Regions from separate parts of the Homo sapiens genome. Here region 1 is linked to region 2. Evidence: fine-mapped QTL for protein levels in blood plasma. A gene starts in region 2. The other region holds a variant in brackets. All regions are shown on one strand. Distances are from middle to middle. Region 1 overlaps ANO2 (anoctamin 2). Region 2 holds the start of NTF3 (neurotrophin 3).

The links. PIP is the chance, under the fine-mapping model, that this variant and not a neighbour inherited with it causes the effect. Protein levels are from antibody-based Olink assays in UK Biobank. Linkage for the fine-mapping came from a reference panel and not from the study's own genotypes, which makes the PIPs less certain.
Region 1: its variant is fine-mapped to the plasma level of the NTF3 protein (UK Biobank, PIP 0.91).

What each region holds. Positions count from the first base shown.
Region 1 is chr12:5,564,442-5,576,494 of GRCh38, forward strand. It overlaps ANO2 (anoctamin 2), which reads right to left. Exons shown (of 25, transcript NM_001364791.2): 23 at 11,393-11,574; 24 at 1,117-1,222. Among named protein-coding and RNA genes, the nearest start is that of NTF3, 140 kb to the left of the region's middle. RefSeq lists an enhancer at 7,781-8,282. The variant T/A (reference allele first, on the strand shown) is at 6,497.
Region 2 is chr12:5,422,006-5,433,499 of GRCh38, forward strand. It overlaps NTF3 (neurotrophin 3), which reads left to right and starts at 10,103. Exons shown (of 2, transcript NM_001102654.2): 1 at 10,103-10,337. The coding sequence starts at 10,320. RefSeq lists an enhancer at 10,920-11,445.

The DNA of each region.
Region 1 (12,053 bases), 140 kb after region 2:
CTCCCATTGTGATACACTTCCCTGGCTGCCAGTTGCACGCTCACATGCCTTTTCCCCTCTGAGACTGGGACTGAGCCCTTGAACCCTACATGTTCCTAGGGGTTCAGGGGAAGACACTGGGGACCAACTGCTGCTTCCAGAGGCTCCTGGGCATCTTGGGTGCTTGGGAGCTGCTTCACCAAGTCACACACTCTTCCTCTGAATCCACTCCTTCCTGTGTGAGTGAAATGTGACATGTGACATACGGGAAAGTGAGGAGACTCCTGGGGGTGGGGCAGCAGGGGATGTCTGAGCGATCATTCAAACATATCGCCTCCATCTCTCCAGAGGAAGAATGGCTGTCTTCTTTAGGTGAAAGACTAGCCGATGGGCTTCTCCACTTTCTGGGCTGGGGTCTGGGGGCAGGATACTTTAGAGCCCCCCAGAGATCTGCCTTCAGGGAATACAAAAGCCTGAGGGAGCCAAAGAGAAAAGGATCTGGGCTCGTTCTCCAGCCCTGCTTGAAGACCGGGGGCACCCAGAGTGGGAATTGGGGGCCCTCGAGCTCAGAGAATCTCAGCGATGCAATTGGAGCTGTGGCTATTGTCCCAGATAGGAATCACTGGGCTCGAGTTTGCTATTCATTCAGGGATGGCTCGATGGCTCTGGGGGCCCTTCTCACCAGATGTCTCAGTGGCTAAAACAACACTAACAAAGGAGGGAGCCCAGAGTGCAAGAAGAAAGGTTCCAAACCTGAGCTCTTTCATGGCTGCAGAGATGAGATGGGGCTGTTTGTCTGCCCCAGGCTGGGACTCTGGTTTCAATGGCCCTTTTCCTTTCTTTGCCTTAGGTTTAAACAGGAATCTATCTCCACCCTGCAACTTATTCCACATCTGTCTTGTAACCTTACACTGTGTTTTATCCTCTGTCTGCAAAGTCCACCCATTAAAGAAAGCCCTCTCAAGAGTCCTCCTGCTTCAACCCGGAAAGGAGCCCTCACTTCTGCCTGCCACACATGAAGCTTTCTTATGTCACAGAGTACCACCGGAACCTGGAGGTAGGTGCAAGCAATGAGTGCAGTGTCCTTACTCCTGCAGCCCGGATTCGAATGGGCTATTCCCTATCCCAGCAACTCACCTGGAAGATTATGACAAAAGCCAGACGGGCGGACAGAATAAACCAGTACTGTTTCGAAAACTCATAAGGGTTCGGGGCCCATGGCGGCTCTCGGTAATCCTTAAACCTGCCCAAAGAGAAATGTGGTGTTAAGATCAGGAGCGCATGGAGAAAAGGGTGGTCATTCTCTGGGTGAAACCTCGAGGGCTGGCTGGAGCATCAGGCACGCATGCCCTTGGCATTGACTTGAGAAGCAGGGGGAAGTGGGGGGAATCTATGGCCTAACCAACAAATTTCCAAAAAGGACTAAAGTCCAAGAAAGCCAATGTCAGCCTAGAAATGTCCTAAAAAGACATTTCTACTACCCTCTCCAATAGCTCCCAAAGCTTACTTTGGTGTCAGGCATCAACTCCCAAAGGAGCCCAGGGCATCTGAGGGTAGTCCAGGCCAGTGGGTCCACCTGGGCCTCCCACTAGCCTGTGGCCTCTGTGTGGGTAGGGGAGACCCAGACACCCTGAATGGTGCTCTGCAGCCGGGGGGGTTGGGGAAGATGCAGACACCAGCAGGCAGTCTTGGGCTTCTTCCCCTTCCAGATGCTTCAGGACTACGGCCACTAGAGGGGCTGGCCTTGCTTCATGGCTGCATTCTTGAACCAAAAAGAAGGCTGATCCAGACCAAGCTGGAGGCTGAGTGAATTTGGGATGGGAGGGTCATTAAGCATCACAGTTGATCAGTATTCTGTTTTGCTAATCATCTTCCTGATCTGTCTGCATGGTTTAAACTACAAAATGTTAATGCCTGACGTGATTTCATGCCTCTTTCTCAGACCCATAGAGAAGCCTTGGGTTTTCCCTCACCCTTGCCTTTTCACCCCCATCCCAGAATGATTCATGTGAATACTAGCTCATTTTCTCAGACTCACATTTTTCTAAGCCTGGAAAAATGACAAGGGGCTGGTACCAGAACTATGACCCTTCCTGGAACAGTTTTCTCCATGGAATTCAACAAATCTTTGCTCATCCTGGGCCAGAGAAAGAGGTGGGTGGTGTCAGGCCACCAAGCAATGATAGTGGCTGCCAAGGAAGGCAGGTAGGGACTCTGCCCGGGTCAATCCCTGAGCAAAGGGTTTTTCTGGAAGGTTTCACATTTCATCTTCACGACAACATCCTCAGGCAGGCATTGTTACCCCAGCATAACACAGGAGGAAACTGAGGCTTGGAGAAGTTGAAGTGTGTGGCCAGAGTCTCGTGACCAGTAAAGGTGGAGTCAGGGTAGGAATGCGAGTCTGGCTGAATCTAGGCTTTCTTCCCATTATCACAGGGCATCTTACCAGTGACCGCAGTTTAGGGGACATTCACAAGTAGGTGCTCTTTGGTCCCTTCTCCTGCCATAAATGAATTAGCTGCTCTAAAAGGTCCATGCAAAAGCTAGTTTGTTTTCCATTGTCCAAAGAGAGATGAGAGAAGAAGAGAAGAGAAAAAGAGGAAGAGAAAAAGAGACGCACACACAAAGATAAAAAAGAGCGCAGTGATAGAATCAGCAACAGAAAGACACAACTGAGAGGTGGACACTGGGGACTCGACTAGGGCTTGGCAGGAGGCCAGGAGCTACCCTCTCCCTGCCCGACTCCCCCTCTCCCAACAGCTGATCACAGCTGCCGCAAGCTTGGTTTGACATCCGGATGAAAAGCAAAGCTAACTGCAGCCCAGCAGAGCACCACGGGATTCATCATAACCGTCCTCAGCTGAGGACAGAAACATGGCCAGCTCCAGATTATCCTTGCTGATGGCAGAGAGGGAGAGCGTGGCTAAATGAATAAGAACATCTTGGGGTGGGAAAAACCTCAGACTCACCTATCCTCCCGTCGCCCCCAGACAGGACGCCATGGCAACAGCAATTTATCTCACTCTTCTAGAGACCTCCAGAGAAGGGTGCCACACACACATACACACACTCACATGTGTGCACACACGCACACTCCTTACCATGGGGAAATCCTTCCCTGGGTTCAGCCCAATCCCTACTGCTACAATGAAAGTCCATTTCTCTTGTTCTCTAGCTGCATCTCTGCAGGAACAGCTGCTCACTGACCTCAGTATGCGAGCCACTGCTCACCCCTCTTTTTTCCAGTCTGAAAAGAATCCATAAATAATCTAATTCTGGTTCCACCTCTGCTATTAACTCACCCCAGCTTTTGGAAATGTCACTTTGTCCTCCCTCAGTGTCTAAAACATGTTTTAAGTTTAACAAGCATATCCATCTAATTGAGGATCTGCAGAAAGACTAACACAGAGATCTGTTCAGAAAACTCTACTTGAAAATAGCTCGATGCAGATAGGCTAAGTGTAGCTCCGTTAGGAACTGATGGTAAGCCATGCCACAGAAAAGAACAGTGAGCAATTTAATATTCATCTGTTCACATTTCTTTCCAAAGCTAACTTTATAAAAACTATGACCTACAGTGAGAAATACATTTTACATTCATGCACATACACAGACTGCAATAAAAATTACACAAAACATACTTTGTTGTGTGCAATGCACTAGAATGCACTAGTATTTTCCTATTCTACTCTATCTGATCCTAACCCACCCTATGCTTTTTTTTTTTTTTTTTTTTTGAGATGGAGTCTCGCTCTGTCGCCCAGGCTGGAGTGCAGGAACGTGATCTCGGCTCACTGCAACCTCCGCCTCCCAGGTTCACGCCATTCTCCTGCCTCAGCCTCAGTCCCTCAGCTGGGACTACAGGCGCCCGCCACCACACCCGGCTAATTTTTTGTATTTTTAGTAGAGACGTGGTTTCACTGTGTTAGCCAAGATGGTCTCGATCTCCTGACCTCCTGATCCGCCCGTGCTGGCCAACCCACCCTATTCTTCAAAATGCCGATCATGACCCACTAAAGTGATTTCATAATTCACTAATGAACCATGACTCATAGTTTGAAAAACCTTGATTCTCCTAAGCCCCTACCACCAGGTAAATGACTCGTTGTTTACATTCCAACAGTAAGTTCAGATTTCACAATTGTTTTTAAATTTTACCCTAAGAAGTCGGGCTTATCAAATGTTTCACTGAGTAACTTAGAAGACACTAATTAAACAAAGAGACAATTAGCTTTAAGAATAGAAGTGTTCACCAAAGAGAGTGGCTAATCAACCGAATAATTTCCACCACCGTGATGCTGCGTGTTTTGTTTCTAAACCCAGTGCTTAGCACTGGCGACAGTTCGTGCTTTGGAGGTAGCAGGTGAGGGGTTGAAAGCCCTGTCCAGCACTGTCGTTCTCTGTCCTCTTGCAAGTTACCTAACCTTCTGATGCCCAGCTTTCTCATCTATAAAGTGGGCCTGAACTTTCCATCACAGAGTTGTTCTGAAGACGGAGGGTCAACGCCGAGTGCTCCGCACACTATCTGGCCCATCAGAGGAACCCAATAAATAGCAACTATTCTTTCTCTTTTTACTGGAGGTTACTTATGGAATACACCTTTTCTGTTAAAAGAGGACAGAGCATGTAGATCACGGCTTCCAGTTCCTCCTAGCTTTCCAGAAGGATTTTTGAACATGTAAGCACTAAATGCTGCAAGTTTTAGTGCAAATCAGGAGTCAGCCAAGGGCACAGCCATACAGGGCTTCTCTCAGGACCTCTGTCCAGGTAAATAGCATGAAATGGGCAAGTGCTGGCTGGTGGGTGGAGGCTGCCAGACAGCTCCACAACAGACCCGTTCCCATGGCTTGGGGAGCTCGGGCCTCCCAAAGTCCCACTGAGTTCCCCAGCACTGGGTGAGCCCCCACAACTGGTCAGACTCCTGCAGCTGCCAGCCGTGCCCCCAAAGAGAAGCAGAGTTTTATCCCCAGCATATTATTTTAGGGATGTTCCTGGATCTCACCCTCACCCCTCCAGTCCTCCTTCATTTTCCTTGAGGCTTAAATAACATAAATTTTGAGAGTTCCCCTGAGTTTTCTAATAAGGAGAGACTTCCAATAATGAGACAACTAGCCTGTCTAAAAAGCTAGTCTGCACCTGGAGCAGCTACGCCACTTACTACCTGTAAGAGACCGAGGAAGTCATTCCCCATTTCCGAACCTAGGTCCCTGATCTACAGAGTGGAACTCCCAAAATGTGTATCCCAGCGCTGAGCATAGAGGAGCTGTCTCAATCCCAGCCAGGAGTGAATAATAGATGTGTGTGCGTGTGTGTCTGCTTGTGTGTATACCTTGCATTTTAAAGAAAGACACTGTGAGAATTAAATAAGACAATCTAGGTGAATATGATTTCCGGAGCTTTTGCAGAAAATGAACACAACAGTTTCTTCTGGGATAGAACAGCTGGGGTGGGGGCTGAGAAGTGACACTTTTCTTCTTATATACATACACAATATGTGTCTATGAAATTAATTACTTTTACAATTAAAAAGTTCAAAATGGTAAAAGATGAATGTAATTAATGGCAATACACAGTTGATTCAAGTACATTTTTATAGTAAGCTTTCCTGAGCAAAATTATGTTAATTTGAACAGACTCATATAATAAATGAAAGTGATACAGAAATCAACATTATGTTTTAGCTTTAAAATTATGTTAATATTTTATCTAGATTGTTCTAACTTTGTGAAAACTCACATTGATTGAATTGAGTTTGTACATGACTTAAATAAGATTTCCATTAACTCAAAATATATTTCATTATAAAACAAACCCATGAAACAATACCTTAAAAGTCCTACAAGTTAATACTATGTTAATGCATAGAAAAATGCCTAGAGAACATTCACCCGTAAGTATCACCCTATTACTGTTGGAAGGATGCCTGGGGTTGGGCAGGGGTTAGGGTGGAGGCAAAACAGAGGTGGAGTGGTTACCTGTAATGTTTAGAATTTTTGTAGAACTAGATTAATAAATGACATGTCATTAAACCTGAAGTTTAAAAAAAAAAAGAAAAGAATCTTTGAAGATTTTTTATTCCAAAGTCTCCATTTTTACAGATGAAAAAACTGAGGTACAGAGAGGAGAGAGACTCAGGGCTCAGATGTCCTCATCCTGTCCTCACTTGCAGGGTGACTAGTGACAGTGACATCTGCCACAATTCATCACAACACAAAATCACTGTGGGCAGGGACAGTGCTGAAGTCAACGATCAGTAACAGCTTTTTAATGAGCTTTTGTTATGTAATGAATCAGCTAGTAAATGCATTTCTCAACTCCAAATAGTGGCATGTAAAAAACATTTTAGTAGCCCCAGTGGAAATTAATGTCATGTTAATGCTGAACACAACTACATACAATATTTTCATACCATCTGAGCTACTTAAAACTGCCTCCTGGAATTGACCCTTAACAAAGGAAAACAGTACAGGCAATTAGGAACTAATGAGTAGCATGTCAATCCAGTGGTTGATAAGAA[T/A]CAGGAAATGTGGCACCCAGAAAAGCTAACAGCCTCTGGTTTCGGTGGGAAGCAGATGGGAGGCAGCCATGGGCTGGAAGGGAGCACCCCTCTTCAAAGACTTTTGTCAGGATACGGGGTGTGCAAGCCCTTAGGACCTGCAGGAAAACCTGGCAGAAGCCATCCACAGAAGCTGCTGCTGGATGCTCAACAAACACCTCCAAGCAGACCCGCTGGGTTGACAATGCCCAGGTAGGCTCTTCGAGCTCTGAGACAAGATATCTATGCTCCCTTCCAGCTGAGCTGGGAAGTCAAGCCTACATCCGTCCTCCAGGACGTGGCGGCCCTTCGACCCTGTCAAATGCTGCTAATCATGCCTGCAGATTGATGTCACGGGACTGTTTACGGAGCAGCCCTGCCAGAGCAGTCAGATGACAGAGGCAAGCATCGCTCCAAAATGCTGGGAATGCATCTCAAACGGGCAGCCGGAGACTTGTGCTAACTTTTATTGCTATTTTTAAGATACCTCTATCCCTGGCGAGGCTGGGTTGGAGTCGGAGACCTCAGTTTTATTTGACCACATTTATCTCCAGAGGTCACTGAAAGCTAAGAATAAGAAGGGTCAACAAGTTCCCAACGCTATTTGCCAGAAAATCATGGCAAACCTTGTTTCCCACCACGGAAGCAGTTTTAACTGGCTCTAGGACTAGCTGAAGAGTTATCTCTGTTTCTCAAAATACTTCTCTATCATAGTCCCTTCTCCTCCTCCTCCCCTCTCTCTTTCTTCTCTCTCTCTCTCTCTCTTCCATGTACACATATATGTATACGGAATTATCTCAAGGATCTCAATTCCTGACTTAGAAAGACATCCATAGAGGTTATGCCTCTGCTTTCTAAATCTCCAGAGAATTGAGTGACCCAGTCAAGTTCACACAGCAGGCAGTGGATAGGACTCATATGAGGCAGAGATTTCCATCAACAACCCTTATCAATCTAGGAAACGCAGCCCCCAGAGCACACCTATTTGACATATTATGTCTAGATCACATGCTGACCTTATTTTCTGAACATCTACCTATATTTCACAGTAGGGCATCTCTTTATGTTAAACATAACCCTCAGTGTAACCCAATAGTCTTCACACTGTAGGCAGAGATGTAACACCAATAAAAAGCTTGATCTCATCACTGCCCTCTGAAACCCCTACAGTGGTACCCTGTGGCCCTAAGAGAGACTCCACGCACCTCAACAGGACCAGCATCCTCTCCTTAATATGGAGTTTGTTTTTTTCTTTCAGCCTCCTCTCTCATAGCTTACCCCTCTCACCTGAGCCTGTCTCCCTGGAATACAGTGTTCTCTCGGAACCTCCATCACTACCTGACACACCCCTTGCTGCCCCATGACCTACCACCCTCCCCACCCCACTTACCAGCCAGGCTGACATGGCCACATGAGTGAGGAGTTTCAATGTGATTGTCTCCATGGCCATTCTTGTACTGTTCATTCTTCAGGTTTCATCTCCCTTGAAAATCCCCTAAACACTTAAGTCTGTGTTAGGTGCAGGGCCTCCCTCCTTAGGGATCCCTTAGCTCTCTGCTGTTGCCCTATTGTCAATCATTAAAGCTGTATTTTAATTTTAATTCCTTGTTTACTTATTGTCTGCTCCATCTAGAGTTCTTGAGGGATGCACTATATCTCGCTCCCTATTATACAACCAATGCCAAGCCTTTAGTAGGGTCTCAAAAATATTTGCCTAATGAATCTGTAATCCTCACTGGTACTGAGAGAGGAAGGAAAAATGATGGATGCTTCAAAGTCACTTCAGCTTGATCTTGGGATGATTTATTTTCTGCAAATAAATTTTTTTGGCAGAAATATAGAATGAAAGTGCACTTTCTATGCATGTGCCCACTGATAATTCTGCCACTCGGTGTCAGATTTTTTTCTAAAACGGGCCACAAACAAGCCATGATCTTATCTACTTGCATGGGAATAATGGGGAGACAACTATCAGAGCCTTATAGCTGGCCGGAAAATCCAGTGACTCTGAAGGCAGATACAAGAAAGCTCAATCTGATCCACACATATTCACAATACCTGGTGTCCTGGGCATTGGTTGTTTTGGCTGAGTAGCACCCATTTGCCTTATTTCTCACCACAGTTCCTGGCAATCATACGGAACTTAAAAACACAGTCAACATTGACTGCAGTGGAACTGGGAGGTGGGCAGAGACTGGATTTGGGCAGACTGGATTGAATGAAAACTTGCCTAAGATTAGATCTACCTTCAACTTCCCATAGGGACCATTAAAATTCCTATTGATTTAAGCCTGTTTCACCAGTGATATACCTGAAAAGCATATTCATAGGTGTTAGTGGAAAATCCAATGGTCAAGGGCAAGATCAGAGACCCTTGTGCTCTGAGGACAAGTGCTTCTAGAGCAACTAAAGAAACAGACGATGTGAGCCTGGCTTTCCCACACGACAAGTCACACTGGTGCTGCCTCCCATTGGACATGGAGGTGGAGACCTGCGCTCTTAGAGAGATGTGAGCTTTAGACCCTGCTTTGAGAAGACCTAGATGCTACTGGAAAGGCCTCGAGCTGGTCCAGACCCTCTGTGCTGTGGAACTATGTCGCTGGGGTCTGCAGACCCAAGTCCAGCACCATGGACAGACAGTCTAGCATGTCAGCCATGCAGAGGGGCCCCCAGGCAGTGCATAGCCTGGCAGCAAATCTGCCTGCAATGTGATTTTAGTATGAGAGTCAGACTCTTTATAGGCCCAGATGCGAAAAATCCTGAAACATCTAGGCTAATATAAATTGACACTTATGAGTAAATTTATTCATCAATTCTTGTGTCTGGTTCCTCATTTTTTATCTTTTCTTGGTTGACGACAGTGGAACCCTGAAGTTGTTGTTCCTGGAACTGGAATACCCTTCTATTTAAACCATAGATTGGTACAGTTGTTTAACTCAGCCACCCAGGTTGGGAAAACCAATTGGTGTTCTCTCGTTCATGGTCTCAGACCACAAATCTGAACCTATGTGGCTGTCTTACGAAAGGCTGGCCTTGGGCACCAAGCATGGCAGACATGCCCAGGGTCATCACTGCTGCCAACACAACTGAAAACACAGCTTTTACATCAAATATTATTGGGGATGGTCTAAGAAAGCCCTATGTTGGTCCCACAATACCTTCTCTTAGGTTTTTGTTATTGGTGTAATTAACTATTCTGATTTATATATATGAGGTAGGATCTTTGGTCAAGTGCTTTATTGGGACTATCTTTTAACCAGGGTACAAATGGGTTGAATAAATTATTCCCCTCTGCTCTTATTCTCTTCATTTGCCCTTCTTGGGTAAATAGTGGAGAGTTTTCCATTTCTTGGCTTCAGTGACCCCAGTGCTGATGGCCTTCAATCAGGACTCTAAGTTGGACGTCTCCAGAAGTCCAGCTTAGTGTGTCAAGGAGTTGGGTGAAAATGACCTCTTGGATTTCTTAACATCGTTTTAAATGTAACATGATTGAAATCAAATTCATCATATGTAGCATAAAATTAGACTCTCTCAGCATATTCCCTCTCCCTATCAATGTAACCACATCCCAGTCCTCTGACTTCAGTCCAAGTTTTGGAGATAATCCTAGCTCAGCCACTCTCCTATGTCTACTGTCACCAACTCTGCAATATTTCATGTGAAATAGCTCATCTTCTCCTCTCCTCTTAATTCCTCCCGCCACCCTGGTTTATGCCCAGCACAGTTCATGTCTAAATGATGCAGCAGCCCAGCTGCGCTCCCTGGGTCCTACCAACTCTAGCCCATTGTCCTCACTGAGAACAGATCAATTTCTCTAAACCTTCCCTTTATCCTATCATTCCCTGACACTAAAAAAGTCCAGTGTCTTCCTATTGCATCACATTCTAATTCCCGTTAGATTTCAGGACTTCCCATTATGTACTTTATCCCATCTCTTCAAATTCAACAACCTTTTGGCTTATGCTGGTGTAGGAGTTTCTACATTTACTGTATTTCCTTTATTAATCCCTTTACTGTGTCTCCTTGCTAACCATATCACCTAGCACCAAGTCTTTATCCAACAGCCCACATTTGTCCCCACCCCATGACTTTGCCCATGACGACTCCCCACCTAGAATGTTTTTCTTTTCTCTCTTACAACACCTAGCTGCCCCTCCAGGAGGCCCACCCTTTCCATTCTAGTCCCTCAAGTAATCTCCCTCTCCTCTGAGCACCCACAATGCTCATGGTCCATACATAAGCTCACCAAATAACCTGCTATTTCCTATCTGTTCTGCTTATTTTCTTCTCAACCAGACCATAGCCCCCTTGATGGTGAGGACAAGGCTCTTTGTCTGCTCCATAGTGTCTAGAAAAAGGCAGTCCATAAATATTTTTTGAGTCATCAAAGCTGATTTATAACAATTGATTTATAACAACTGCAGAGAGAGCAGGAGACAGAGGGAAAGGAGAATGATGTACAGTCGTGTGTTGCTTAACGATGGGGATATGTTCTGAGACATGCATCATTAGGTGACTTTGCAAACATCACAGAACGTGCTTATACAAATCTAGATGCTATATAGCCTACGTCACACCTAGGCTATAAAGTATAGTCTATTGCTCCCAGGCTACAAACTTGTACGGCATATTACTGTACTGAATACTGTAGGCAGTAATATAGTGGTAAGTATTTGTGTACCTAAATATATCTAAATACAGAAGATGTATGGTAAAAATATGGTATTATAATCTTACGGGACAATCGCCATATATGTGGTCTGCTGTTGTCCAAAACATCATCATGTTGTGCAGGGTTGTAATTCTAGGTCGTCCCCGTAATTATTTGGATCTATTGCTTCTGGTCCTCTGCTGCCCTTCTCCTGAAGATTACTTTACCTGCAGAACTGAACCTCCTGGTCAAACTGTGAGTTTTCTGGCTGCGTCCCCTCCTTCAGCTGGCTGACGTTGAAAAAGGAGAGGGTGTGGTTGACAAAGCCGTGCAGAGTCCCATTGTGACTGTAGGAGTACTGGTACACCAGGCGGGGGATAAAGTCGGAGGTGATCGCAATGACAAAAGCCTGAGGGACAGAACCATAAGCACTGAGTAGCCAGGATTGATGCTAAAAAGGACTGTCCACTCTTAGGCTCCCCATCAGAAGGAGCTGCTCTGACTGATACAGAAGCTCATGCAGCATGATCAGGTCCCTGAGCTCATGCAGCTGAGTCACATGCCTTTTCCATCTTTGATGTGTATAAGTATAATAAGTCCACCAGACAGTGGCTGTCAAAAGAGCACATGTCAACCACTGCAGCAAAGCATGCTAAGTCAATTTGGACCATTTGGTGCTGGAAGGATTAAACCACTTCTGAGATATCTAACATTGCTGTTGAGCAAGCCAAAACAGGGTGCACGCTTTCCTGAAAAAAATTACCTATAGTGATGAGGGTACTACGTAAGTGTAATGGGCAAGGAAATGGAATGCCCATGTACATCTGCCCCTGAGTAGTACCAGAAAGCCAGAAATACCAAGAATATGATTCCACAGTTTGCTTAATT
Region 2 (11,494 bases):
TCCAATGTGGGCAACACAGTGAGATGAATCCGTCTCAAAAAAAAAAAAGTTATATCAAAGAAACATTTCCTCAGCAAAATAGATCCTTTCATTATCTTTACTACAAAGCAAAGAAGATAAAAAAGCAAGAAAGATGTGGAGAAAAAAGATTTCCTCAGTTGGGAACCTTAAAAGGTCATCTATAATAATATTATTGAAAAAGAGATAGAGTTCATCTATTTAATCCTGTTTCTTCAGAAAAGACCAACCTTATGTCATCAGAAATAAGAAAGTAGTAATTACACTTTTAAAGCTGTCTTTTAATCCCACCTGTGATTAAAATTCTTTTCTAGCTCCTACTAAAACCTTGCCTTCTTCATTTTAAGTTAATTTTCCCTTGTGTGACCAGTTGTTCACAACAGGAACAAAATAAAGGAAATATTAAAATACACTGAAATAAGAAAGAGAGGAAAGAAGAAATGGAAGGGAGGAATTGGAGGGAAATGAAACGCTTCCAGAAGGAAAGCAGATGTGCCTATTTCTTGGGGGCTGTATGAACACAGTAGACAAACAGCAGCATCCTGGGAATCAGGTGAGTGGGCTCCACACTCTCACTGATGAGTCTGATTGTCTGTGTGGTCTCTGGCAGGTGTGCTCATTTTCCTGGGTTACAATTACTTCCTCTGTAAAATGAGGGGATTGACTAGGGGAATCTGAGTTACCCCCCATTGAACGCATGTCATTCATTCATTGCGTCTACCTGGCAGCTAGTCTGTTTTCCAACTTGAGATATGGGGTGTGGACCAGAGTTCACACTGGGCATCTCCTACCAGTTGTGATTTCATTCTCAACTTAACCACAGACTCCTTGCTAACCATGGGCAAAATCATTGTTTTTAGTTCATTAATTTCTTATGTCTGGAAGGTTATCTGCAACTTTCTTGTGCACCTCTTTTATTTTCTTTATTTTTAAGGTATCCATACAGTCAGTTAGGGGAGATGAACATAGGTGGAAAGATAATAGTTGTCATCATTTGTAAAGTTATTCTCTCTACTCACTCCAATGGAACTAATTTCTAGCTTTTAGACTCATTGTTGAAAACTTCTGATGAAAATTATTTTATATAGTGAGAAAAGGACCAATGGAATTTTCTAATCTTTGTTTGGAGGCAGAGGCAGATATGCTGGAGTAGTAAAATGCAAATCCGGGCTGGGCGCAGTGGCTCCCGCCTGTAATCCCAGCACTTTGGGAGTCTGAGGCGGGCGGATCACGAGGTCAGGAGATCGAGACCATCCTGGCTAACACGGTGAAACCCCGTCTCTACTAAAAATACAAAAAATTAGCCGGGCCTGGTGGTGGGCACCTGTAGTCCCAGCTACTGGGGAGGCTGAGGCAGGAGAATGGCGTGAACCCGGGAGGCGGAGCTTGCAGTGAGCAGAGATCGCGCCACTGCACTCCTGCTGGGGCGGCAGAGAGAGACTCCGTCTCAAAAAAAAAAAGCAAATCCGATGCCCATAGATACTATCTTGACAGCAGCTCCAGATTTTAAAACTCATTCAATGGCAGGTTTTGAACGCTGGCTTGCCTTTGGAGTCTGAGGTCTAAATGACAGTTAAGTCTATGTCTGTGTTAAAGGAAGAGACATCTGCATGAGTAGACATTTGTGCCTGGATGGGATTCAAATGAAACATAGGTAACAGAACATCAATTGCCCATAATGTTCTAATCCAACATCCTGTAGTTTCTGAGCAGGCATTTACAGAGTTAATACTTATTAGAGACTCAAGGCTCAACTTTTTTCCTGTATATCTTGATATTGCAAACCCTGGTAGTTTTAATTAGTGGCCTTTTAATCTCTGGAGCAAAGCCAATGGCCTGTTCCCTTGGACAAATTTCTTAACAACCTGGCACTGAGTGGCTTTGTCTGCTTGTGGGAGCTCTCGTACCCAAGGCTGTCATAAAGAGTTACATAGGTTATGTCTGCATGAAGGAACCAGCTGAAGAGATGGGTGGGTGTTGGAATCAGTTCTTCTTCCATGTGCCAAGTGAGTGTCCTGGTGTGAGCTACATTCACCTAGAAAGGTGTGCACACCTAGCGCACACAAAGGCCTATGGTTTCACCTGATCCTATCCTACTTTCAGTCTCCATTTCCTTCCTCGTTTCATGCCCTAGGACAACCTGGGGTCCAGGAGGGCTGGCTCTGTGGGTATTGCAACCTTCCTACTGCAGGTCTTGGCACTGGACTAAGGAACAAGAGACCTGCCTCATGTCTGAGCTCCTCTGTGTAATCTTAGGCAAGTTGCTTATCTCCTCCTATGACTCAGTTTCTTCATATGTATAAAGAGAAAAATGTCACTCTATCAAGGTTAGATGGTGCAGAGGGACAGACAGCTGGGGTTCAAACCTCTGTTTGCCACCCATTCACTACCTATGTATCCTTGGCCAAGTTATATAAGCTTTTTATACCTCGATTTTCTTAATCTGTACAGTGGAGCTAATAATAGCACCTACCTATATATCATGAGTCCTTACAAAAAAGCCTACAAAGTAGGTGCCATTATTATTTCCACTTGACATATTTAATAAATTGAAGCCTAGGAGAAGACACGTAACTTGCCTAAGATCACACAGAGGAGCTCAGACATGAACCAGGTTTCTGCCTCTTAGTCTAGTGCTAAAACCAGTGCATGTGTGCATGTGTGCATGCTTGTATAGCTACAGATATAGATATGTATGCTGGCATGGATAATACAGATATAGGTATAGATATAGATATCTATATGTACGTGTGTGTGTGCTGGTTTATGTATATATATGTATATGTATCTGTATGCACACACATATGTGTTTGCATGTGTGTGTATAGATACCTTTATATATACATATACACACACATGCACATGCTGCTTAAAACAGTGCCTGGCCTATAATGCTAAGATTATTAAGTACCCAATGCTCAGTAAGTACTCAATAAATGTTACCTATTGCTATTATCTGTAGAGAAAGTTTCCACGTGCTAACGTTCCCTCCCTCCTGTGCTGGGAGTTTGTGGTTTGAACAGACGAGAGCCCAGCATGGGCACCCTTGGCTTTTTGAGCATTATTTGCATTCTGAACTGGGGCCTGACGACAGCCTGCTCTCAGGGTGGGGACAGGAGCAGAACCATCAGCGAACTGACTGGTAAATATAGCAAATCATCCGATGGGTTGGCTGCATGGGGTGTGTCTGTCTGTATATGTTTGTGTGTGTTGGAGATAGTAGTGGTATGTAAGCTTATTTTAACTGGAACTCATATTTTCTAGCCCCTCCAAGAACTAATACCTCTTTTTAATGTTTCATGGGAACACTGGACAGAGGGTCTTTAAAGTAAAAACTCAGTGACTCATTCTCTCTCTTCAGTTTTTCTGAACTGCTGAGTAGAGAGAGGAATATTTTCAAGGAAACACGAGGAGATTAGGATGAACCTTCTTTGCCCCTCACCCCACCTCACCTGCTTTGTACCTATCAGTGGAAGGTGAGGGCTGGTCTTGGGGGCAGGAAGATGGATGAAGTGACATTTGCAGGATCCCCTGGGGGCAGGTGTATAGGAGGTGAGTACTCGAGGGGCATTTCATCACGCATTGCTCTTAGGCATGGCTAGCCTGGATGGGTCTCAATTAGGAGTAAGGAGACCTAGGTTCCCATCCTGCTTGGTCTCAAATCCCTGCAAAGGCTGCACCTTGAGTTGCTAGGCATTTACTTCCCAGACATTCCCTGCCCCTTACTACCAGTAAAAGTGGTAAATGCAGGGTGTGGCCAGAATGCTTTTCTAATCCCTAGTGCCACTCCAAGTCCCCCTACAGAGTTAAAGCCTAAAATGACTTCAAACCCAATGGAAGACATTGTGTGATGGAAACAGTTCTAGTTTTCCAGTTGGCTTTCTAGCCATGAATTTGTGTCCTGTGTCCTTTCTCCAGCAGGTCAGGGAAAGTGCAAAAGGCAGGCTTTACTCTACATTGACTGCCCAGTGCTAATGGGTAGGAGCACGTCAGCCATGGGACTCGCAGGGAAACTTGCCACACTTTGAATATAGGAGTCACCTGGCTGTGTCTTGTAACCAGTTGGAGACTTCACTCACAGATGTCACTCTGGGGCTACTGAAAATAGAAGAAATCAGATAATACAAAATTTCTAACTGTATTCACATTAGTGTGTTCTTTGTTTTCTTATTTATATTCACAGTCATGAAAGAAAATGAGGTTAAGTACCTTTACACATGGTAAAACCAAGAAACTGAAAAGTTTAGTTACTTCCCTGAGCTCACAAAACAGTGACAAGACTCTGGATCTCATTTCCCTATCTCCCTGTCTCTAACCCAGGATAATTCTCTGGATTGCATTGCGTGTCAGAATTTCTCTGTTCCTACAGTGTAAATTTCAGCCTTAAGCTCCACCTACAACTTGCCATTTTCGCCCAAAGCATTCAAGATGTTCTTTTGCATCCAGACCCTCCTCCAAATGAAGAAAGCTGCAGTGAAAATGCCACTGAGTTGAGGGGTTGCAAACCAAACCTCCATTCCCATAATTCAATTCTCAGGCCCCAGCCTTCTGCTAAGGCTAACAGATCCACTCCAAAATTTTAAGAGTCCACAGTGATCAAAAGCATCTGTATATTCTGAAACATGCAAATCAACCCTGTTTTTCACATTCATCTCAACATTTGGTGGAGGGCACAAGAGTCAGCTGGCTGCTGAGTGGACGCAGCTTAGCAGATGAATGGAAGGGTCAAATCCCTCTCAAGATTTGTAGAACTGGATCTGAAATATGAAATGCCAGCATACGTGATGAGAGGGATAGTCTATCGAGTGTTTTATCATCCAAAGATGGAATTAATGGCTATGCCATATCTGTGTCAGACCCCGGCAGTAAAACTTTATGGGTTCTTCCCCGTGAAATATTTTGTTTATGTCACGTGGGTCTCATCGGATGTTTTTTTCTCTTTTCTTCACTTCCCCTCCCCACCCTTTTCCCTGCCCTCTTTGTCTCCTGAGACCTATTCCCTTTGGAAATGCATTAGTTACCTAGGAAACCTTAATGTCATTTTTTTATGAGTGGAGTTTGGTGCAGCATAAAGTTAATTTATAGGGTGGTTAGGAATTCATGTCATGACTGGTGAAATAGGAGACTTTATTATGATTTCTACATCCACCTGTGTGGTAGGAATACATACCTTCCCTCTATCATTACGGGTAATTTCTTGAAACGTAATTATGAATATGTATGCCATGTCACAGAATAAGTTGATTCACCGTTGTTCAATGCAATTCATTATATTGTTCAATGTAAGCCCTAGAACATAATTAGCAATAACAACAAACCAATAATATACCAGGCAATCTGTTAAGAGTTGAAGGATATGGTGGAATTTCCTTTTAAATGATGAGGTGGTTCTGGGTGAAAGGCAGAGAATGAATAAGACGAGATTTTGAAATCCTTCAATTCTGTCTTTCATGCACATTGAGGTCCACGTTGGGAAGCTATATAAATTCTAAATATGTCCACTACTTCATTCTGCTGATTTATTTCTGTATTTGTCCAAAGGGGAAAATATACATCCATAAAATTACATTAATGAAATGTGTAGTGGCATACAAATAATAATACACAGGCCATTCCAGAGCCAAGCTTCTTTCTAAAGATAGCTCATTCCCCCAGTGGTGTGACAGTGTTTCCTGTGTAAGGACTAGCAGATCGGGACTGGCATTCACATTGTGCCAGGCACTGTGTTGAATGTTTTAAATTAATTAGTTCCTTTGGTCCTCATATTACTTCTATGAGATTGGTGTTGTCTTCACCAATTGCAGATGGGTTCTAAGAAGTTAAGAAACCTGTACAAAAGCACATGGCTACTGAGTGGAGAAGGTAGAGGGGAACCTGCTTTTCTCAGGCACCAAAATCTACTCTGGCAGTAAATTCTAGGTCGTGGTCTGTCATTATGTTTTTGTTTTTGTTTTTTGTTATTCTGAGTTTCCTCAGTTATTAAATGCAGAGTGGGGGACATAGGGGCTGATAGAAGTTTATCTCTGATGTCTGTATTCTGTGTAGAGAGATCAATGCTAGTCCTTAGAGCAAAGCTGTGCTTTCTTAAAATGACAGAAATTTGGGGGAAGACCTGGTCTTGTTAAATAAACATAAACAAGCCACTCAGTTTCTGTGGACAAGTGCATGCGAATTGAAAGAAAAGAAGAATGTCTCACAGGTGACTCCAGGTCATCTGAGAGGAATTGCTATATGGCTTGACAGCCTGTAGCTCTTGGTGAATAATGCTGTTGCCAGTATATAGAAACGGGTGGGCAGCCAGGAATCTTTCAAGTGCGGAGGCACAAAGGTAGCATGAAGCCGCCTTTCCTGACCCTTAAGCTCCCAGTCCCTGTGCAAACACCTTTTGCATTCACTTTAATTGTTTGAAAAACGAAGACTTCCAGACTCCATCAGCTCTAGCAGCTGTCTGGGTGGATGGGGGTGGGGATGGAGGGGGTAGGGCGAGACCTCCCCACAGCGCCCTCCAGCAGCAGAAGATGCAACTTGCAAATACTTCAGGATCAGTGAGAAGTGTGGTGTTTATTTTAGTAACCTCAAAAGAGAGAAAAAGAAAAGCAGTGGAAGAGGACAGACATTCAAGGCTAGCTACACGATCATGGGGAAAAAAAACAAGCTTGTCTTTGACACGGAAAGGGTCCTTGGAGGCCATTCGGTCCACTTCTCTCATTTCCTGGGTCAACATGTCACAATGAATTAACCACATACTGCCACTGCACAAGACCCCCTCCCTCACCACACGCTGAGCCCCCACCACCAGCATTCAGTCCACTGAGCTCAAACATAGGGAGATAAGTGCTGTTTTCACAAGATAAAGGCAAAATTCAATCCCACGTTGCCGTTTTGTTTCTGTTCAGTGTTCCAACCACAGAGTGGTGCTATTGCAAAAGATAAGGGTAACCAGAAGGCACGCTCTGGAAATTTGCTTTAGGAGAGAGTTTTAAAGGGGGTTTTCAAAAACAAGATCTGATTCCTGCTCTCAGAAATCACTTCCAGGAGTCAGGGCCTTACTCTCAGATGCAGCAGGGAGAAGAAGAAAGTTCAGCAACCTAAAAATACAGTCGACAGATGGGCAGCCAAAGTCATGGCCACGAAGTCAACTTGGAGAGGAGCACCTACCTAGTGAATCCTAAAAGATCTCATCCTGGATGCTTCCTTAACCAGGCCTATGTACAGGGCACAAGCTCGCAGCCAGCTTACTTTCCAGTCCTGATCTTTGCTTTTGCTATCCATACCAATGGTATTTCTATAGAAAAGAAAAATCTCTATTTAGAAACACGGATTTACTTAGAAGTCACAATATTCTAGTTTAAAAATGGCTCTACATAGTAGAGAATGATCTTTTTATTCTGTCTTCTTAAAAATACACCTTTCTAATTCTTTTTTTCTTCCCACCTTCTTCATTCAGCACCTTGCCACTCCCTTGGAAGCCACAACAGCGAGCTGGGGGGTCAGTCCCTAGTCTTAGAGGGAAGAAATCTTTAGGTCTGAAGTCTAAAGAAAAACAGTAAAGGAAAAGGCAGTTGGCGGTGCTCAAGGTAGACTGTCTGAAAGAGGTCTTCTACTCAGAAAAGGGCTAAGGCTCTCCCTTTGGGAAACCAATCCTTCTGAGAAAAAGTGCATCTTTCACCCTCTGCTCCTGTCTGGGTCTCTCCCTCTTCCTCCCTCCTTCCCTCAGTCCCTCCTCCCCTCTCTCCACAAAGACACAGCACATATTTGGCAAGATTAAGGTGTCACCTCTCATATTACAAGGCCTGTTGATTGCAAGCAAAGACAGACCCACCAGCTTAGGACAAAACCCCTTGGAGTTGGAAATAAGACAAACTCTGGGATCCCCGAAAGTCCCGGCAAAATGACGCGGCCAGCCAGTGCAAGGCATCTGCAGAACAAATCCAAGTCCTAAACGCACTGCTTGCTGCCTTTTCTTCTCCTTCCTTTCTTCTGATTTTTCAAGTTTGTTTGCCCCCCTTCCCCTCCTCCCTCCAGACTGCCAGGGACCTGGGAGCTGCCTGCAGATCAGCCCGCACATGTATTTAACCCCTTCCCTGCTGCAGCAGGAGCCAACCACCTCTTTCCTTGCAATCTTCAGGTTCCCAGAGGACCTGGAGCTTGAGAAAAGAACTCTGCCAGTGGATCTGAAACTGGGGCCTGAATCCCTCCTTTGACCAGGGCGAGAAGCTGGAGGAGGGGGGCAAGTGCGGGAAGTGGGGGAGGGCAGGGAGGCGGGCCAGATGAGAGGGAGAAAAGCAGAACCCGACAGAGCACGCCCAATCCAAACCTTCATGGTGCTGTGTGGCTGGGTGGAGGGAACGACTCGGCAGCCTCTTCTGGCCCTGAGGAAGACGTCGATATTTTGGCACGAGGGGAGCCACTGAAGGACTACCCTACCCTTGCGAGGGACCGCAGGAGGTGACGCCCCTGGGCCTCGGTGGGCGCTTCTGGCGGTTTTCGATGTGGCAACCCCCATCAGCCAGGATAATGATGAGGCAGGTACAATCTATCTAGTACGCAGCCCCCAGACTCCCCCCTCCCTTCCCACCTCCCCATCCAACCCCCCAGCTACTCTCTGCGGCCGGTTGGTCCTGAACTGGTGGGTGCAGTTCCGATGTTTAACCAAATTCTCAAGCAATTTCAAGGTATTTGGATTTTTTGAACCTGGGCCCTAACCGAAACGCGGAACGGCTTGCTTATTAGACACCTCGAACGACAGGGCAGGGAGGAAACGGGATACTCGCTGCCCTTCCCAGTCGCGCGTGAGTCAAAAGGTCCTGGCAGGAGATGATGTGAGGAGCGGCTGAAGTGGCAGGGAGGAAGGGATGAGGGGCTTGGAGCGGAGGTCCACCACGCAAGGACTCGGGAAGCGGGCAAGTGGGCAAAACTCTGCTTCCGGGCTCTCGATTTCTCGTTGATCACTAAGTGGTATTTTTCCCCCTTCTCTCGATGGCAAATGGGCGAAATCAAGATGACTTAACTTGGTAAATTTAGAGAGAACGGCTCGGAGCAAGTGAGGTCTAACGGGCAGCTAAAATTATCTCCAAATAAGAGATTTTGACCCCCTCCCCCTATCCTCTCCTCGAATGTATCCACCGGTGGGGAAGTGAGCGTCATTACTTTCGGGGCGCCACGAACAGGTTTGTTTGTTGCTCGCCTTTCCTGCTTCTCGCGCTGTCCCCGCGTGCAGACTGGTGGGTGCTGGGCGAGTGATTAGCTGCAGGGCCCCATCCTAGTTTGGAAGGAAGGGGTTTAGAAGTTGGAGGATGGGTGAAATGGGAGGCTGCGATCCATCTCCCTCTCCCTTCCACACTCAAGCTCCCGCAAACACGCGCGCGCACACACAGCCCCTCCCTAGTCCCTCGGACCACCCGCCCCCACGCCCCTCTACCTTGACCTCCCTTGACCGCCGACACAGCGTCCTGGGTGCGGGTCCCCGGGAGCGGGGAGTTCGCCGGGGAGCGATTGTCCTTGGGCGTGTTCGTGCTGTGGGGTGGGGGGAGGAGTGGCGGGTGGGCTTGGTAGGGGGTGGGGAGAGATCTGGAGCTGGAAGGGTCTAAGGTTTGGAGGAGGAGTTTACGCCTCAGACCTGATCCTCCTGAGGAAAAAGGCAGGAAAAGGCCCTGATGCCTTGTAAAGAAAATCTTGAAAGAAAAAAGATCAAAAAGAAAAATTTCAAGAAAAAGAACCACTAAGAAAGGCTGAAGACACTAACATGTAACCTGTTACGATACATTTAACGTTTCGTTTTTTCCTGGATCTCTAAAAGGGAACTCAAGGGTGGGGGTTACTGAAGAATACTACAGATTTGGAAGTTTTTGTTGCTGTTGTTGTTTGGTTTGGTTTTGTTTTTCAAGAGGGGCCAGGAGAAATGACCCCTTCCCCGCCACGGGTCCCGAAGTGAGGGCGGGGGGGGGGCTCTGGGGCGCGGGCGCGCGCGGCGCGGCGCGGGCCGGCGGGGGAGGGCGGCGCGGCGCGGAAGGGGTTAAGGCGCTGAGCGCGGAGCCATCTGGCCGGGTTGGCTGGTTATAACCGCGCAGATTCTGTTCACGGGACTCAGAGTTGAAGCTCCTCTCCCTTCCGAACAGCTCCGCGCACCGCCCCGCGACGCAGCCCGGCGCAACTACTTTCTTCTCTCTCCTTTCTTTCTTCCTCTCCTTTTTCCCCTGCTGGGTAGTGGCTGCGGCGGGGTGGGGGAGACTTTGAATGACCGAGCTCGCGTCCACCTTTCTCTTCATGTCGACGTCCCTGGAAACGGCCACACGGATGCCATGGTTACTTTTGCCACGGTAAGGGGAGGCGGCGGGCACCTTGGGTGGGCAGGTTTGGGGATGGGGGTCCACGTGGGGAGGGATTTTCCAGTGGACTGGTGCGGGGGGCCCCAGATCCGCATCCCGCCCCACCCCCATCGCGCCGCGCTCACTCACTTTCCCGGGCTTGTGTCTTCCCCAAAGTTTGCGCTGGGATCTGCTCAGGCCGAAGCGCAACCGCAGCCACCCCGCTACACACACACACACACACACACACACACACACACACACACACACACACACAGACACGGACACCCTTCTCCACCTCCTCCCCTCTTGTCCCTCGGCTGCCCAAGAAGCTTCCCTCAATCTGGGAAAGTGATCAGGTTTAAGGGACCTGGATTGGAAAGGGTGGGGGCAGAAGAGGGGAAATGGGGACGACGAAAGAGCAGGAAAGAGATTCAACAGAATCAACCACCCACCACTCCCAACCGACCCGCCTGCTCCTCCGAGAAAGCTCCTAGCGCATCCTATAACAAAAGGGGGTGGCAGACAGAACTCCGGGCGGGGAGGTGCCGCGGCAGCTCCCCTGCACACGCCCTGCACTCTGCCGGCCGCTGAGCCTGATTCTCAGCTCGCCCCAGCACCACTCTGGCCCGGGCGTGGGCTGGGGGGAGGGGACGCGCAGCTCAGGACCCGGAACCTCGCGTTCCAGTTTTGGGAGTTGGGACTCACTGCCACGCGCCGCGTACCTGCGTTGGAGTTCCCCGAAAGGGTTTTTTCAGAAAAGACCTCGCGCCCCGGGCTCCTCTTGGCCAGCGCCCACCCGGTGGCCACCCCACCCTGGGCCTTTGCGCAGATGTTGGAGCTCCGTACGCAGCCCGCACATCTGGGACCCCTCCGGGGAGCGGCGGGCACCCGGGCCCGGCCATCCCAGGGGATCTCCTTGCGGTATCGTCCAGCCTGTTCTCGGACTTTGAGCGGTGGCGTGGGAGGCCGGGAGACCTGGGCACCCGCGCAGCCAGCCAGGTCGGAGTTTAAAGGTCCCACGACGGACCGAACTGTCCCATTGCCCCAGAGCTTTACTCAGTGGTGGATGCTCCTGATGAAATTTGGGACGCTTGGGAGTTGAAGGTTAGGGACAGGAGGGGCGAGGGCCGAGGGCATGGGATGGGGGAGTAGGATTCTGCTTGTTG